Linked DNA regions of Homo sapiens: region 2 is linked to region 1. A link means that fine-mapping ties the variant in region 1 to the plasma level of a protein whose gene starts in the linked region. Region 1 holds a variant in brackets. A gene starts in the other region. All regions are shown on their forward strands.

What was found. PIP is the chance, under the fine-mapping model, that this variant and not a neighbour inherited with it causes the effect. The UK Biobank Pharma Proteomics Project read protein levels with antibody pairs (Olink). The fine-mapping took linkage between variants from a reference panel, not from the people measured, so its PIPs are less certain.
Region 2: OMD starts here. The variant in region 1 is fine-mapped to the plasma level of the OMD protein (UK Biobank, PIP above 0.99).

Annotation. Positions count from the first base shown.
Region 1 is chr12:104,010,364-104,021,741 of GRCh38, forward strand. GLT8D2 (glycosyltransferase 8 domain containing 2) reads right to left here. Exons shown (of 11, transcript NM_001384711.1): 2 at 10,994-11,128; 3 at 9,267-9,313; 4 at 4,650-4,742. The coding sequence starts at 9,285. Among named protein-coding and RNA genes, the nearest start is that of GLT8D2, 34 kb to the right of the region's middle. RefSeq lists a silencer at 4,004-4,226. The variant T/C (reference allele first, on the strand shown) is at 4,691.
Region 2 is chr9:92,421,060-92,429,059 of GRCh38, forward strand. It overlaps OMD (osteomodulin), which reads right to left and starts at 3,412. Exons shown (of 3, transcript NM_005014.3): 1 at 3,143-3,412. The region is part of intron 5 of CENPP (centromere protein P); the gene reads left to right.

The DNA.
Region 1 (11,378 bases):
TCCTTTTCTGCATGGCTAACCCTTACATATTCATTCCAAATGCAGTACTGACATCAGATCCTCTGGGAAGCCTTTAATACCTCCCTACACATAAATTAACACGCACCTTCTCTATGCTGTGGCCTTGCCTATGGTTGAATTTATTAATTGCGTTGGAATTTATTTGGTTGCATGTCTTTCCTCTTTCTCCTATTACACTAGGAGCTCTGTGAGGGCAGGTATTTTGTTCATCTCTGTATCCTCTGCAGCTGTCCCAGTGCCTGGCACATAGTAGATTTTCAATACGATCTGAATAGATGGGTGAATATTAGATATCTCTATTTGAGCACTTGCCACAATGCCTGGAAGAATCTATTTATGTGTCTGTCTCCTCCACTAGACTGTAAGCTCATTATATTATCCCCACTGAGTCTGGCACTTTGGAAGTGCTTAATGAAAGTTTGCTGGAATGAACTAAATGGAATTGATGAATGAGTCTCAGAAAACAGGGCCCTTGAGGAATAAGAGGGAAGGGTAAAAAAGCTGGGGCTGTGCCTGGCTGCCAGAGTCAGACGGAGGCCTTCAGCAGACTGTGGGAAGCACAAGGTAAAAGGAAAGTGTCCTCATAAAAGAGGGGACACTCCAGAAAAAGGTCAAACATTGAGTGTCCAGCTCTGCTGCCAACACATGACACTGCCACACTCCTTAGGGGCCTCTGCCAGGTAGAGAAACTGAGCACTAACTTAAGCCAAAAATACTGCTCTCTGCCAAAAAGTTCCCCCTGGACAGAATGAAGGACAAATGCACACTGGAGAAATGTGGCAGAAAGGCTTATCAACTGTACCTTCTTCATCAATGCTCCATCCTTGCAGTTTCTTTAGGAATTATCTGCTCCATTATTTGGATTCATTGTACCAACTGGTGCCTGAGCCAAAGCATTAAAATGTTGGCTATGGGAAACTATTTGGTGCCTAACAAAAATAGTAAACATCACAATGCTGGCAGAATGGAACAGAAATGATACTGCCTTCGTCCATTCCATAAGCAGCTCTGATCAAGCCACGCCTATTCCTAGAAGAAAGGAAATGTCTGCTTTCCTAATGCCATGACTCAGAATTCCATTTCAAATAAGGATTGTTTTAGCCAAGTGTATCAGCTTACCTCTCCCCAAGTGGGACAGCTGCGAGTGACCAGCACACTAGTCACAAGAGAAGTATCGGGAGATTACATGGAGTGTCACAATGGGGATATTACAGAGAATACCGCCATGTTTTACTTGAACGTAGGACTTCACAGGGCCTCTGGACATCAACTTAGAACACTAGTTCTTTGAATTAATGTTTTTCAAATTATAAAAAATAATACATAATTATTGAAAAAATTTCAGCCCAAACAGAAGAGTATTTGGTAAATTGTGACTGTTTTCTGCAGACCTCTCACTCCCACTCCAAAAGTAGACCTCTGCTTTATAACAATATATAACACAACCAGTGTGGTGTGTGCCCCTTAAACCCTTCTTAATGGTAATACTAAAGAATATATACCTGGGCCGGGCGCAGTGGCTCACATCTGTAATCCCAGCACTTTGGGACACTAAGGTGGGCAGATCATCTGAGGTCAGGCGTTTGAGACCAGCTTGACCAACATGGAGAAACCCCATCTCTCCTAAAAATACAAAATTAGCCAGGCATGGTGGCGCATGCCTGTAATCCCAGCCACTCGGGAGGCTGAGGCAGGAGAATCACTTGAACCCAGAGGCAGAGGTAGTGGTGAGCCGAGATGGCACCATTGCACTCCAGCCTGGGCAACAAGAGCGAAACTCTGTCTCAAAAAAAAAAAAAAAAAAAATATATATATATATATATATATACCTTAAACACTTATTATTTAAAAACCAAAATGGAATCATACTTTTCAGTCTCTTCTGCAACTTGCTTTTCCCATTTAACATACCACAAGCATTCTTCCATGCCAATGCTACATTCGTTTGAATGGTATTTTATAACATCGATTTTAAAAAATTTTAACACTGAATGGATAAACATGTGATAATGGATCCATTCATGCGGTCCAAATGCTTTGTTTCTCTGTATAGGTCTGATTAGGCAGTCAGGATGTGCATTTCTTTGGAGCTGTTTTAACAGCTGTTTTAAAACCTATCCACTTATTTTCCTGAAGAAGGGAGTCTGTGGTGGGATTAGCTGAGTGAATGTGTTGGTTTATGAGCAGGGATTGAAGCATGAAGAGTGGAGTCAGTTCAGATGACATTTGTCTTTATGTGACTTCCTTCTCTCTCTCTCTCTTTTAGAACAGTTTATTGAGGTGTAGATACTGCTATGGACTGAATTGTGTCCTCCAGAGTCCGTTTGTTAACGTCTTAGCTTCCAGCATCTCAGGATGTCCATGCACTTAATTGCCTTTAAAAAGGCAAATAAGTTAAAATGAAGCCATTTGGTAGGCCTTATCCCAGTAAGACTGGTATCCTAATAAAAGGAGGAAAAGAGGAGAATCACACAGAGGGTCACAGCCAGGAATGCAGCACAGAGAAAAGGCCACGTGAGGACACAGCAAGAAGGCGGCCATCTGCATGCCAAGGAGAGAGGCCTCAGGAGAAACAAAACCTGCTCACACCTTGATCCTGGACTTCCAGCCTCCAGAACCAGAGAAAATACATTTCTATGGTCTAGCCACCTAGTCTGTGCTATTTTGTTATGGCAGCCCAAGCAAACGAATACAGATTTTTAAAAATTTACCCATTGTAAGCGTACAGTACAATGATGTTTAGTAAATTTATAGAATTGCACAACCATCACCAAGATCCAATTTTAGAAAGTTCCATTGAGCTGCCTGGTCTGCAGTCAGTCCATTCCCACTCCCAGCTCTAGGCAACCACTGATCTGCTCTGTGTCTCCATAGATTTTCCTTTTCTAGAAATTTCATATAGATGGAATCATACAATATATGGTCTTTCAGGTCTGACTTCTTTTATTTAGCATAGTTTTTTTTCAGGTTCATCCATATTGCAGCTTGTATCAGTCATTTGTTCCTTTTTACTGTCGAAAAGTATTTCATTGTGTGAGATAAATTACATTTTTTGTATCCCTCACGAGTTGATGTACATGTGAATTGTTTCCAGTTTGGGGCTACTATGAATTATACCCTAAGAACATTTGTATATATGTCTTTGTATGAAAATCATTCTCTTTGCAGATTCCATGTTCATTTAGATCAGATTATACATGTTTTTAATTATTTTTAAATGAATTTTTAAATTACAAAATATAATCAGAAAGAAATGCCAGCTTCCTGGGAATAGGGATATTGTTTTGTTCACTGTTGTGTTTCCAGTCCCTAAGTGTCTGACTGAAAAAAAAAACAAAACTGTGGAATAAATGTATGTAACACACCAAATAACTGTATTCAGAGTCTCACTCTGTCATCCAAGCTGGAGTGCAGTGGCACTATCAGGGCTCACTGCTGCTTAGACCTCCTAGGCTCAAGTGATCCTCTCATTCCAGCTCCCAAGTAGCTGGGACTATAGGCATGCCCCACCATGCCCAGGTAATTTTTTGTGTGCATGCAGATGGGGTCTTGCTTTGTTGCCTAGGCTGGGCTGGTCTCAAACACCTGGACTCAAGTGATCCTCCCGCCTCAGCCTCCCAAAGTGCTGGATTACAAGTATGAGCCACCATCGCCAGCCCGTAAGTGTGTATTTGCTTGATTTATATAAAAAGTAAATTAGCTGGGCATGGAGCTCATGCCTGTAATCCCAGCACTTTGGGAGGCCAAGGTAGGAGGACAGCTTGAGCCCAGGAGTTCAAGATGAACCTGAGCAGCATGGCAAAACCCATTTCTACAAAAAATTAGCTGGGCGTGGTGGCACACACCTGTAGTTCCAACTTCCTGGGGTGCTGAGGCCGGAGGATTGCTTGAGCCCTGGAGGTCGAGGCTGCAGGGAGCTGCTATTGTGCCACTGTATTTGAGCTGGGGCAACAGAGTGAGATTCTGTCTCAAAAAAAAAAGTAAATTAATTAAAAATGTAATAAACAGTGCTTCCTGATTTTTATGGAGGTTGACTTTGTGTGTGCATTGGAGTTTTGAAGGTGCCATCTCAGGCAATTCACCCCCGAGGAGGGAAACATGGTTCTCAGTGCAGCTGGGAGAGACCACAGGGCCAATGAAGGGCCATTTTCAAGTTGAGAGTTATGAGGCTGACTTGCACTGATGGGAATGAACCAGCAGGGAGAGGAGAAAGAGGGTGGTTTCCATAAGCAAAGTCATTGAGAAGCTCCAAAGAGATGGAGTGTGGAGCAGTGCACTCACCCTGTGGTCCAAGAACCTACAGCATCAGCCTCAACCAGGAGCTTATCGGAAATGCAAGTCTTGAGGCCCCACACCATACCTACTGATCCTACACCTCACGGGTGGGCCCAGTGCTGTGTTTTAACAAGCTCTCCATGTGACTCTCACACATGCTAAAGTTTGAATAGCACCGACCATCCTAGGGCACGACTGAAAAGGTGGTCTAGGGCGGATATTCTACTAGCAGGTCCTTGGGAGTTGACCAAACTGTCACTTGTCCCTGAACCCAGCTATTGAAAGGACCTAGAGGAACATATTCAAACCACATTCCTGGGTATCCCAACTCAATGAATTCCATGTCTGCTCACCTGCGTCATTCTTGGGCACAGTCCCCTTATGAACTTTCTTA[T/C]ACAGAATCACACAGAGGGTCACGATCAGAAGGAACAGCAGCACCTGATTAACTGAAATAGAAATGGAAACACATTAACATTGAACCTATGAACCTGAAATCACGTGACAAAGTTTAGAATGGTAGTGCGAGTAGGTGCCTTCCATGACACAGAGGAGTGGTATCTGAGACCTTTCTATAAGCAGACAGCATATAGAATAAAGAATTAACCTGGCCAGGTGTGGTAGCTCATGCCTGTAATCCCAGTACTTTGGGAGGCCAAGGCAGGTGGATCACCTGAGCTCAGGAGTTTCGAGACCAGCCTGGGCAACAGAGTGGGACCCTGTCTCAACAACAACAAACACACACACACACACACACACACACACACACACACACACACAAATTAGCTGGGCGTGGTGGCATGCACCTGTAGTCTCAGCTACTAAGGAGGCTGAGATAGGAGGATGGCTTGAGCCTGGGAGGTGGAGGCTGCAGTGAGCCAAAATTACTCCAGCCTGGGTGACAGAGCCAGACCCTGTCTCAAATACAAAAACAAACAAACAGAAAGAATTAACCTGGAACACTATTGTTGCTCAGGGGTCTTGCATCTTTACTGAATTTGTATATCAGTTCTAATAGTTTTTTGCTGGAGTCTTTAGAATTTTCCAAATATAAGATTATATTGGCCAGTTGTAGTGGCTCACACCTGTAATCCCAGCACTTTGGGAGGCTGAGGTGGGCAGATCACATGAGGCCAGGAGTTCAAGGCCAGCCTGGGCAATATGGTGAAACCCTATCTCTACTAAATTATACAAAAATTAGCTGGGCGTGATGGTGCATGCCTGTAATCCCAGCTATTTGGGAGGCTGAGGCATGAGAATTGCTTGAACCTGGGAGGTGGAGGTTGCAGTGAGCCAAGATCACACCACTGGGCAATAGAGCAAGACCTTCCTTCCAAAACAAAACAAAACAAAAACGTATCATCTGCAAACAGGATAATTTGAGTTCTTCCTTTCCAATTTGGATGCCCTTTATTTTTTTTGCTTGTCTGATTGCTCTAGCTAGGGCTTCCACTACTATGTTGAATAACAGTGGTGAAACGCAGCCATCCTTGTCGTGTTCCAGATGTAAGAGGAAAGGCTTTCAGTTTTTCCCCATTTAGTATGATACTAGCTGTGGGTCTGCCGTATGTGGCTTTTATTTTGTTGAATTTATGTGATTCTTCTTATGAGCCAGTAGTAATTATAAATACATGTTCTTAGCCATTATGACACAGCTGCTTTTCAGTTAATTCAACCCTTGGTCAAGGATGATGTGCAGGCCGGGTGTGGTGGCTCACACCTGTAATCCCAGCACTTTGGGAGGCCAAGGCAGGTGGATCACTGGAGGCCAGGAGTTTGAGACCAGCCTGGCCAACATAGCAAAACCCCATCTCTACTAAAAATACAAAAATTAGCCAGGTGTTGCGCATGCCTGTAGTCCCAGCTATTCAGGAGGTTGAGGCAAGAGAATCACTTAAACCTGGGAGGCAGAGGTTGCAGTGAGCCGAGATCATGCCACTGCACTCCAGTCTGGGTGACAAAGGGAGACTCTGTCAAAAAAGAAAGAAGGAGAGAAAGAAAGAAAGAAAGAGAGAGAGAGAGAAAGAAAAGAAAGAAAGAAAGAAAGGGAGAGAGAAAGAAAGAAAGAAAGAAAGAAAGAAAGAAAGAAAGAAAGAAAGAAAGAAAGAAAGAAAGAAAGAAGGAAGGAAGGAAGGAAGGAAGGAAGGAAGGAAAGAAAGAAAGAGAAAGAAAAGAAAGAAAGAAAGAAAGAAAGAAAGAAAGAAAGAAAGAAAGAAAGAAAGAAAGAAAAATAAAGAGAGAAAGAAAGAAAGGAAGAAAGAAAGAAATTCTTGCCCTGGTAAACAGAAGACCTCAATGCCTCCAAGCCTCCAGCTCTGTTTGTTCCAGTGATGTTGGCCCTTGAGATCTGTTGAGAAGTAGAGTGGTGTAAAACAGTGTTTTCTTGAGTATGGAACATATAGCACTGGTTGTGCATGAAATGACTGAGGAAGTTCATGTTCATAGCATTAATATTTAATCAGCATATGAGAAAGTCAATCTTTCTGATTTTATGTGCAGGAACACAACAAAAGCTACCCAGAGTTGAATCACATTCTCCTAATTGTATATGTGTTTAAAGCTACCTTTTTTTTTTAATGATAGGAAATCATTCTGTTTTCATTTGCAGTAAGGATAAAAACTTTCTATTATGAAGTACACTTATAAATTTTTAAAATTAGTCAAAGAAAACAAAATTGGTTTTGAGATGGAGTTTCACTCTTGTTGTCCAGGCTGGAGTGCAATGGCACAGCCTTGGCTCACTGCAACCTCTGCCTCCTGGATTCAAGCGATTCTCCTGCCTCAGCCTCCCGAGTAGCTGGGATTACAGGCCCCCACCACCATGCCTGGCTAATTTTTGTATTTTTAGTAGAGACAGGGTTTCACCATGTTGGCCAGGCTGATCTTGAACTTCTGACCACAAGTGATCCTCCCACCTTGGTCTCCCAAAGTGCTGGAATTACAGGCATGAGCCACTGTGCCTGGCCTAAAGAAAATATTAAGAAATGTTTAGGACAGAAGGAACACAGCTGATGAAAAATTGAGAAGATGGCATGTTGGCATGTGTAGTGCACACCTACCTAAAGTTTGGGAAAAGTTGGTAGAAGGGAAGAGGGTGTGAATTTGAAGTCAGACTCAAATCTCTTTTCTACCACCTCCTAGCTGTATGGCCGAGGGGTATCTTAACCTCTCTGAGCTTGGTGTGCTTATCTGCTGAATGAAGATTGTAATAATAAGCATTACCTCGCACTACTGTTTTGAGAGTTAACCAAGGCAATGCAGGCCCAATAAAGACTTTACAAATGGTTATGCATCATTGTTATTATTATTTTATCTTTTTTTTTCTTTTTTGAGACAGGGTCTCACCTCAGTTGCCCTGGCTGGAGTGCAGCAGTGTGATCTCAGCTCACTGTAACCTCAACCTTGCAGGCTCAGGTGATTCTCCTACCTCAGCCTCCGAAGTAGCTGGGACTATAGACACATATCACCACACCTGGCTAATTTTTTGTATTTTTTAGTAGAAACGGGGTTTCACCATGTTGCTAAGGCTGGTCTCGAACTCCTGGACTCAAGCAATCCACCTGCCTCGGCCTCCCAAAGTGCTGGGAATACAGGCATGAGCCACCGCACCTGGCCTGTATTATTTTTTATTATTTTTATGCATCAAGAGACTTAATCTATTGACTTCATATGCATCTATTTTTTGGCCTCTATGCCTTTGTCTTCCCATTTGTAAAAGAGTCTTCGTGGATGCCCTCCAAAGCTACATCCTGAGGCTGTGATTCTATTTTGCTGACACCCAGTTCCTCCCTGCCTTAATGGATTATCAGATTCAGCCAGGGACAATCAGATACTAGACTCCATTTAAAACAAAACTACAGAGAAGCAGAAAATGGACAGAAAATGGACAAAATTCTACAGTTTATCAACAGGCCCGATTAATATTCACCTGCCACGGCCGGGCGCAGTGCCTCACACCTGTAATCCCAGCACTTTGGGAGGCTGAGGCGGGTGGATCACTTGAGGTCAGGAGTTCAAGACTAGCCTGGCTAACATGGTGAAAACCCATCTCTACTAAAAATACAAAAATTACCCAGGCAAGTATGTCTCATGCAATATTTGGGACATACTTATACTAAAAAATTATTTGTTGTTTATCTGAAGTTCAAATTTAACTGGTTGTCCTGTTCTGAGTCTTTGTTTGCTGAATCTGGCAACTCTACCCTGAGGGTCACAGAATTAGGTTACTATGTTTCTCCTCAAATTCACAAACTACTGGATCTAAAATCAGAGGCAAATCCAGGTTCTGATGGGTATGAAGATTCGAGATGACTCTTTAAGACTAAGAACGCAAAATTACAAATTACAAATGCTAAATTAGCTATGAACATGAATATTTATTCCGAACGAGAAAATGCATTATTTTTGCAAGTTTTATAGAAATATATGATCCCTGCTGTAAGTTCACTTCCACTTCTTCTTCTTTTTTTTTTTTTTTTTTTGTGTGTTTGAGACAGGGTCTCACTCTGTCTCCCAGGCTGGCATGCAGTGGTGCAATCTCAGCTCACTGCAGCCTCTGCCTCCCAGGCTCAAGTGATCCCCCTGCCTCAGCCTCCCGAGTAGCTGAGACTACAGGTGTCCGCCACCATGCCTGGCTAATTTTTGTATTTTTTGTAGAGATGGGGTCTCTCCATGTTACCCAGGCTGGTCTCGAACTCCCGAGCTCAACTGACCCGCCCACCTCAGCCTCCCAAAGTGCTAGGATTACAGGCGTGAGCCAGTGCGCCCAGCCGATAAGTCCACTTCTGACTAAAATACTGAACAACTCTCCATGGGAATCATCTGGAAATGATGATGCCAAAAAGTGCCTGTGGGAAAACTATCCATGAAAATCAAACACAATCCAAGAAAGAAGAAAAGAGCCAAGCCCCAGCCTCAAAACCATCCTCCCAAATATGTTTTTAAATCATTATTTTCAAAAGTTGAAATCTTACTTTTTCGTAACAGAGCCATGTGTATTCACGCGGATAAGAACTGTAACCTGTGGATTAAAGGAAAAAAAATCTGTTTAAAGGAGAATCAACTTAAAACTCATCAACAAGTGTTAAGGACTATGCCTTCCCTGAAAGACTGATATATCGTGAAGTGTGTGATCATTTTTTACTGCTCCAAATCTAAAATTTTGGAAACAAAATAAATACTAGCCCATGTCTTCAAAAGCAATGCCTCTGGTTGAACAAACCTTACTAAGGGTCCTCAAAAGCTAATCTTTTGTCTTCAGAAGTTCTTTCTTTCTTTTTTGGTGATAGAGTCTCGCTCCATCACCCAGGCTGGAATGCAGTGGTGCGATCTTGGCTCACTGCAATCTCCCCCTCCCAGGTTCAAGCGATCTTCCTTCCTCAGCCTCCCAAGTAGCTGGACCTACAGGCATGCACCACCACACCCAGCTAAATTTTTTTTGTTTTTAGTAGAGATGGGGTTTTGCCATGTTGCCCAGGCTGGTCTCGAACTCCTAGCCTCAAGCAATCCATCCATCTTAGCCTCCCAAAGTGCTGGGATTATAGATGTGAGCCACAGTGCCCAGCCCAGAATTTTTTTTAACCTCTTGTAAAAAGAGCTCTGTCAGCCTTCTGGGTCAGCAGAGCAGATGGCAGAAACTGGAAGTATCACACTAGATCTCCCTGATCTAAAATATCAACCCTATGCCATCTTTCTACTATCATAACTTCGTTCCTCGATAAGGCAGATTTTACATCTTCAAGAATCCCTTGGAGGGGCATGCATTATACTCAATTCAATCATTCATTCAGTATTTACATATTGAGATCCTACTAAAAGCCCAGCACTGTGCCACTTCCCAGTGATGCACCGAAAAACAAAACAGTACTGGTCCCTATCCTCCTGAAGCTTTTGGTCCAGTGGGGGAAACAGATATTAAAATGTGACACATAAAAGTATTAGATTATGGTAAGTGCTATGAAGGAAGCAAAGGAGATGTTGGGATAAAGACGAACAAGGGTAGGGAGTGCATCAGGAGGAGAAATCAGGAAAAACTTCATTGAGGAGATGGCATTGGAGGGAAAGAAGAGCAAGAGCCAGTCAAGGGCAGAACATGCAGAGGAGCATCCCAGGCAGAGGGAACAGCAAGTGCAAAGGCCCTGGGGCTGGAAAGAGCTCTAAGTATTCTAGGAACTGCAAGAAACTCAAACTGGCTGGATCATAGTGGACCAAAGGAGAGACTGGATGGAAGAGGTCAGAGAGGTACCAAGGGGCCGGATACTACTGTGCCTGAAGAGGAGTTTGGATTTTATTTTAAGTGCATTAAACCCCCTCCATCAGTGTTTAACTTTGTTAAAGCCCTAAAGCACTGTTTTTCAAACATTCCCAAGGGAATTCTGATGGTAAAGGAGAGTGAATACTCAACATTGCTCACAATGAGCTCAAAGTATCTTTCATGTTTTTTGTTTTACCTTCAAATTCATGGGAACTGTGCAAGAATGTAGTGGAAAGGAATCACTCCTTTAACTGCTGGCAGAGTTCCCCCCTCAGGGAGAAAGCTATCTGTTATGAAAGCAAGGTCTTCTGTGCCTAGGTGGGATGGCTAGGTGAGAGCAGGGAAAAGCTAACCTGGTCTGAATAAGGGATGAACCGAATCCTAAGGTTCGGCCACAGCCCAAGAAAAAATGTTATTAGAGGAAAAGGAAAAGTCCAAGTCACTTACCCTGGAGAACTTCCTTTCCTATGGCAGGCCCAGGGACTATTCAAGAACAGATGTCCAATACTCAGCTCACAATCTTCTTCCACGCTCTGCACCTTCTAACCTCAGCCCACCTCCACGCTGCTCTTCCCACAGGACCTAAAGTGACATTTTAAGTGTTTTACTGGGCGTGGTGGCTCACTTTTGGAGGCCGAGGTGGGCAGATGCTTGAGCCCAGGAGTTGGAGACAAGCCTGGGCAACATTATAAGACCCCCCCTGCAACAATCTCTACAAAAAAATACAAAAATTAGCAGGCATCATGGTGCATGCCTGTAGTCCCAGCTACTCGGGAGGTTGAGGAAGGAGGATCACTTGAGCCCAGGAGGTTGAGGCTGCAGTGAGCCATGG
Region 2 (8,000 bases), not on the chromosome of region 1:
TTTCTGAGACAGTCTCACTCTGTCACCCAGGCTGGAGCGCAGTGGTGCACTCTTGGCTCACCCTCCATCTCCTGGGCTCAAGTGACTCTCTTACTTCAGCCTCCTGAGTAGCTGGGATTACAGATGCGTGCCACCACACCTGGCTAATTTTTTAATTTTTTGTAAAGACAGGGTTTTGCCATGTTGCTCAGGCTGGTCATGAACTTCTGGGCTCAACCAGTCTGCCCCCCTCAGCCTCCCAAAGTGCTGGGATTACAGGCATGAGCCACCACCCCCGGCCTTGGAGGGCCTAAATTCTGACCTGAGGAATTTGCACTCTGGGAATGAATGCCTAATTTAATGAATTAACATATTTGGGCTGTGATTTCACACTACAGTCAGTGTTCGTGGGTGAAAAAGTAGAGAATCTTGGAAGGAGGTAGATTTAAGGAGTTATGGTATCATACCAAAGGGCAGTGTTCAGAGCAGGCTCTCCTTGCTGGGCTGGAAGCTCCCAGTGGGTCTGCTTGGAAATGCTTATTCACCTAGTGTACTCTACTACTTTACTGTATGTAAACATGCTTAGTGAAGCACTTTACAAATATTAGTAGTTAGTTTGATTGGGTTACATCAGTTTACCGTTGTCCTGAATTATTTCTAGTGATGAGGCACTATGCTAAGTTGGTGGAGAATACAGAAATGAAGAAGACGTGAAGCCATAGTCCCTTCTGTAAAGAGCAAACAGCTTAGTGGAGGAGAGAGATACAACAAAGTGAACCCTAATCTAAGGCAGAGGGTAATATCCTTTATAGCAGAGATAGGCAATGCTGTGGGGCCAGTGGCTTACCTCAGCCTTACGGAGACAGGAAAGTCTTTTGTAGACATCATTTGACCCAGACTTTGGGAGATTAATAGGAATGGATATAGAATATTCTATACATTTTATACTCATTGATGATATTTTATGTATAATTTTATAATATTTTATTGTACTTATTATAGTATAACATATTAACTTTTTTTTTTTTGGAGACAAGAGTCTCGTGCTGTCACCCAGGCTGGAGTGCAGTGGCACAATCTCGGCTCACTGCAACCTCCGCCTCCCAGGCTCAAGTGATTCTTGTGCCTCAGCCTCCTGAGTAGCTGGGATTACAGGCGTGCACCACCACGACTGGCTACATTTTTTTGTATTTTTAGTTAAGACGGGATTTTGCCATGTTGGCCAGCCTGGTCTCGAACTCCTGACCTCAGGTGATCCGCCCACCTCAGCCTCCCAAAGTGCTGAGATTACAGGTGTGAGCCACCTGCCTGGCTGAAAACTCAGCTTGAATTTTATCCCTTTGTTGAGAACATTAGCTAATCATCAGTTATCAACCTTACATTTGAGAATTAGAGTCTGTTGTTCAACAACTATGAAAAATTGTTGGGAAAAAAGAAGAAGGCCTTGAATCAAGACATGACTGGGGCGTCTCTGAAAATAAAGAGGTTTTTAATATTGTCTGCTTTCCGCCTTTGTGAGCACCTAAGAAGAAAGTCTTTCCTTGAGGAACAATTTCTCTTCTAAACCTGAACTTATCTTAAACATCCTTGTCCTCCTCCCTCCACGTTCCTAACCATGTAGTACAATCTTGTCCCACTCCCTTTGATTAAGTGCAGTTTTCTGTTTTGAAATCCATCCTGTTTTCATCTATATGCTCATTATTTTCTATGCCTCTTGCTCTTTCCCCAGGATAATTTCCCCTGTTACAACAATCTCTTATTTTATCCAAATTTTTCATTCCCCAACTAATCTCTTCTGAGTCATTTGCTAAGCATATTTTTGTTACTTCTGCTTTTCATACTCTACAATGTATGCCTTGTTCTCTATAGGATAACTCACAGCAATATTGTATAATTCATTGTTGATCATCTCATTTCCTAATATCTTTTAACAGAATCTAATACAATGCAGTGTTATAAGTGCTCAAAGGTGTGTTGAATGAATAAGTTAATAAGTTATAGGTTAAGGCTTGCTAGCAAATGCTTCTCTCTACTAATGTTGATTATTCCTAGGCATTTATTTCACTATGATAATTTCTTCAAATGAACATATTCATGAGAGCTTGACTGTTCCTTTTTCTATTGAATATTTCTTCATCACAATATACTGTATTCCTCACTTTCCTAGTACATCGTGTAGCAGGAAAAGAACAAATGTGAAAAAGAATGTTTGGAGCAAAGTAATATATATATATTACCAGTTTTCAATGTGAATTTTTCATATTATAGCAATAAAACCATCTGTGTCATAATATTTCTCTTACTTGGAGAAAAGCACTCGTGTTCATCAAGAAAAGTTTCAATTGAAATTACTAATGAGGTATAATTTACTTGTTCAGGAAAAGTTTAAAGTAAAATCCTCAACATTTTATTATGTTAAAGACATAATTGTTTTTATTTGTATGACATAGAAACTAGCATATAAGAAAGCAAATATTAGCATATAATTTAGATTTTTCCAAAAAAGTTCTAAATTTTAATTTTATAAAATTTTTTTGCTATTAAAAATACAATTACCTCAATTATTTTTAGCCATAATACATTTAAATCGTAATTAACTAAAACCCAAAGTAACTAGATCCTTCAATAGACTAGATAGAGCATCTGTATTTTCCCTTTGAGAAAGAAGTAAATGAAAAGAAAAACATTCTATATCAGGGATTTAGTCAGTAGAGAAATTTGGAGAAAATCTTGAGTGAAATTTGTACAAATGCCCATCAACCCCCCAACCGGAATCACTAGCATTGCTCAGCTGTATGCCTCAAAGGCATTAGCTGGTTCTTTGTTACTTATAATTCATAGAAAAAAAGAGACCTAAGGAAGAGAAAGAGATTGATTCCTTTAACCTGAGAATCTTTCCTTTCATTCAAAGTAAAAAAAAATCTAAACAAAGATTTTTTATTGGGTAAATCTTAAATGAGAAAGTTAAACTCATTATACTACTTTATTTGAACATTTTGCCTAATCAAAAGTTTAACATAACTTTTTTACCAGATTTTGCTTCCAAAAATTGTGCTTTTGTAATAGATGCAGTCTATTTTAATATTAAAAAATCCAATATACTTTTAAATTTTAACAGTAGGAATACATTCTTAAAAAATTGAAAATTATTTTATTATCATACCTGTTCAATTTGCTTTAGTTTTCAGGGGTTGATGAATTTGTAAATCCTTTAAATGAATCAGAAATTCCTAAATTCTTTAACTGAGTCTCTTAAAAATCCACAGTAACTCTGTGTCCAGACAGGGCTGTCTCTTGAATTACTGTAGCAATTTAAGCAAATACAATCTTCTTGGAAAACACTCGGGTTGAATTAAAATTATGTATTTCTTTTCATTACATGAAACTTTGTGGATTCAAATTAAGATGCTTGTGTTCTTGGTCAGATTTATGTGGCTTACTTCTTTCTTTTCCCCTTAATTTTGGTTTGAGGTGTGGCAAGAATTTCCTCTAATGTGAAAGGCAAACAAAACTAAATGAAACAGCATGTACTGATTACTGTTTTTATTTTCATTTTCATGCCAAAGAATTCTTCAAATTAAGGCCCACTGTGACAGGGAACTCCAGAGTCTCAGCAACTTAAGGTGGAACTCAAAATTTCTTTTTTAATTTTTTGAGATGGAGTCTTGCTTTGCTGCCCAGGCCAGAGTATAGTGGTGCAACCTCGGCTCACCACAACCTCCACCTCCCGGGTTCAAGCAATTCTCCTGTCTCAGCCTCCCAAGTAGCTGGGATTACAGGCATGAGCCACCATGCCTGGCTAATTTCTTGTATTTTTAGTAGAGATGGGGTTTCACCATGTTGGCCAGGCTGGTCTTGAACTCCTGACCTCAGGTGATCCTCCCGCCTCCACCTCCCAAATTGCTGGGATTACAGGCATGAGCCACCACGCCTGGCCTGGAACTCAAAATTTCTTGAGTCCCTTGGTTATTCAACACCTAGGTTCATATCAGTACTTCTATTTGTTAAAACAAGAAATCAGGATTAGAAACATAACATTTCGCATTGTTTATTTTTAAAATGCACTTGATTGTCATTGCTTACACAGATTAACTATACGACTTTTCTATACAAAGGCTTACATCTTCATTTTTATCATCATTTTTATCAGCTATCTCATTTCTCCTCTTTTTGGCAGATGTACCCACTAGAATGACTTCTAATATCCTTTCAGATAAAATTAGTCAGTTGGTTGCACTCCAAAGGTGTATCTTCAATTTGCCTGTTTTTACTATTGCACAAAATAATTCTGTAGTATTGAATAAAATGGGATGAAAAGCTTATGTTACTCAATAGCTATTGCCTTTATTTTGTAGATTTAGAAAATTTCTTCATTTCATAGAGCTATCTCTCCTGAATAGTAACAGTTAACTGTTTTTAATGTTTAATTTTTACACTGTTCTCATATTCTAAACAGAGAGTTGACTTGTGTCTTTTGGCAGTAGATTCGGAGTTCATTTTGGGGGGGAATTCTTTTAAGCTTTTACAAACTAATAAGATAAAGTGAATCCTGGAGTTCATTTTGTTTCCTCAAAAAAGTGTTTTCCATTAGCTTTTTACAAAGAACTCACAAGATTTATTTTGTTAAACTTTGCATTAAGAAAAGTATACAGTGTTTCAAGTGATGCTTTGGCAGTTGTAAAAATCTAGTCTATTATTTGAGACATTGGTATGAAAAACGTGGCAGACCACACTTTAGCCAAGATTCCATCTTGTTACTGATCTTTTCCATATGTTTTCTGTTAGTGTCTTTGTTCTTAAAACTCAGGCTTTCACTAAGGAAGAGAGAGCAAATCTGTGTACTTTTTCAAAAAATTGTTTTATAGGCCTTCACAGTCCTTTTGGAAGATTAACTGAAAATCAACAGCCTAATGTTTATATAACTTCTCATTAACTCTGTGATTTGGATTTATGATATTGATTATGTTATTCATGTTTTTAACAAGTGTGAAAGAAAAATCAGTAGATAACTAGAGCAGACAGAATAAAAATGTCTAGAAAATTTAAACTGATTGGCAGTGTCTATCTAGGAGGTTTAAGGTGGCAAGGGATGGGGATGGGGGGAGGTGGTGGTAGTTAGAGTCAGGCCTTAAAGGAAAAAATAGGGGATGTGAGTTTGTAATAGTTCACTGTTTTAGTTAAGTGGTTATAATTGTAGCAATTGGGGAGAAAAGGAGTTGAATTGTTGAAAAGTGTAAATTATATGCTATGATTATACTTTGATTGAAATAGATTCAGTATCTCAAAGCTGAGTGACACAGGACTGGCTAGGAAAGGCCCTCCTGAGACCTGCTTAATTAACATAATAAGCATTACAATTTTCTGCTCATTTGTTCCACTTTATTCACTGGACACCTACTTTGTGCAGATTTTAGATGCTTGGGACTCAGCAGTGAAAGTCTCTGTTATAGAGAAGGAAAACAGAAAATAAACATAAATAAGCATAAAATGCAGAATATAAACAATGTAGAGTGCGATGGAAGAGAATAATGCAAGGTAAAGGGATAAAAATGAATGAGGCATGGGGGTACGGGTCAACAGTTCAGGCACCGCTGTATGTGGGGACTGGAATGGAACAATTAAGTTACTGTATGGCAGATGGTGAGAGCCAGGTGTCTCACCGTTGGAGTGGAAGTTACAAATAAATAAGCGAGGTGAGGTGGTGACAGTGATTCATGTGGTAATAGATTAGAGTTGAAGACATCAGTATGAACTCATATTTAGCTTAATATAGATACAGCTGGTTAAAAGGGAAATGTAATTATGTTATATACACATAGTACACACATAGACCTCCTTGCTCTGTTGGCTGAGAGATCCTACAAGCAGGAGCACTTTAAGCAGCAACAAACACAAAGCCCAGATCTTGGTTTCTAACATCATTTTCCAGTAAAAGGAACCAGGGCTGCTCCTTGGAGAAATGGCTGTTTCCAGGAGGACTGGAGCAAGGAAAGTAGGAGATGGGCCTGGAGCATTGTACAGTACCAGAAAAAGGGCACTCAGCAAAGAAAGGGATCTGGGGAGTCTCTGTTCTTCCACTCAGTTTTGCTGTGAACCTAAAACTGCTCTAAAAAATAAAGTCTATTAATCTTTTTTGTTGTTGTTGAGACAGTCTGGCTCTGTCGCCAAGGCTGGAGTGCAATGGCGCCGTCTTGGCTCACTGCAGCCTCCACCTCCTGGGTTCAAGCGATTCTCCTGCCTCAGCCTCCTGACTAGCTGGGATTACAGGTGTGCACCACCACACCCAGCTAATTTTTGTATTTTTAGTAGAGACTGGGTTTCACCATGTTGGCCAGCCTGGTCTTGAACTCCTGACCTCAGGTGATCCGCCCGCCTCAGCCTCCCAAAGTGCTGGGATTACAGGCATGAGCCACCGCAGCTGGCTATTAATCTTTATTATTTATTTAAGTATTTATTTTTGAGATGGAGTTCCACTCTTGTTGCCCAGGCTGGAGTGCAGTGGTGTGATCTTGGCCCACTGTACCCTCTGCCTCCCGGGTTTAAGCAATTCTTCTGCCTCGGCCTCCCAAGTAGCTGGTATTACAGGCATGTGCCACCATGTCTGGCTAATTTTGTATTTTCAGTAGAGTCGGGGGTTTTCCATGTTGGTCAGGCAGGTCTCGAGCTCCTGACCTCAGGCAGTCCACCCGCCTCAGCCTCCCAAAGTGCTGGGATTACAGGCTTGAGCCACCATGCCCTGACTATTAATTAATCTTTGAAAAAGGGCAGGCAGAAACTATTTTAAGTAGTTTAGATATTTAGAACTAAATATGGTGATGGGGCAAGCCAAGTTGGTATCAGAGTGGTGACAGGCCAGCTTGGCTGATGCCTAGTGATCTAGGAGGAGGGAGTAGGTGGTACTCTCACAGGTAGCCAGTGTCAGCAGGGTCAAGGCAGACATATGCCTGGAAGTAACCACCTCTCAGCATTCTAAATGGAATCAAGTTTGTAAGGCAGATAATGACACTTAGCTGATGAACTACTTCTATCAGAAAGGCCACTTGGGCAGCCCTATAGAAACAGTCCAAACATTAATTGCAGTCAGTCTCTTAGTCTATCTGCTCCCAGGGGGCTATGAGGAGCAGAGGCTCCTGAATTCATGGCCCATACTCACAGGCTTTCTTGGCCATCATCATTCACATTTTCTGTAAATGGTGCCCCCATGCCAACCCTGACCACTCTCTTGTGTAAGCCAGAAGTTTGGGAGTCCTTTAAATTAGTACCTTCTCAAGTGTGGCCGGAGGTCCATCATCATCAGAATTACCAGAGCTGCTTATTAAAAATTCAGGTTCCAGCATCTTTATACTCAAGATCTACAAAATCAGAACCTCTGAGCATGGGCCCAGGAACTTCCATTTTAAACAAGTGTCCCAGGTCCCACCAAACCTTGAGAACCACTGATGTAAATACTTCTCCCTGACTTTCAAATTGAATCTATTGGTGAATCTTTTGTGTTCTACACCCAAGTATCTTTTTGGTCTGTCTGTGTCTCATACCATGACTGCCATCATCTCAAACCCAGGTGTTCTGGGTAGGGTCTTGACTATGTTCATACATCTCCAAGCAATTTTCTTCTTGTCTGCATAAAAATCAGACTGCACACTGTGTCTACTTAAACTTCCTTGTTTCTGCTTGTTACTTGCTTCTACTTGTTACTTCCAGTGATGCTTTATTTAAAAAAGTAAATTCCAAACATTGATCTTCAAGATTGGGGATGATCTGACCTTGGCCTACTACTTGCCCATTCTTGGAATGTTCAGTTTGCAGCACTGCTGGTTTCTGCGCTGTACCCACACTGGCTTCTTTTTGACCCTCACATTGCCATGTTTCTGTCTCACTATGACCTTTGAAGGAGCTTCTCTGTCTCTTGAGGATGCTAGGCCTCTGTACCTCTCAATCTTGTTGTTAGCTAACTCTTATCTTTAAGACATCAGCTTATTCCAGTTGCAATTAATTATGAATGTAATTATTTGTCTGCTTTC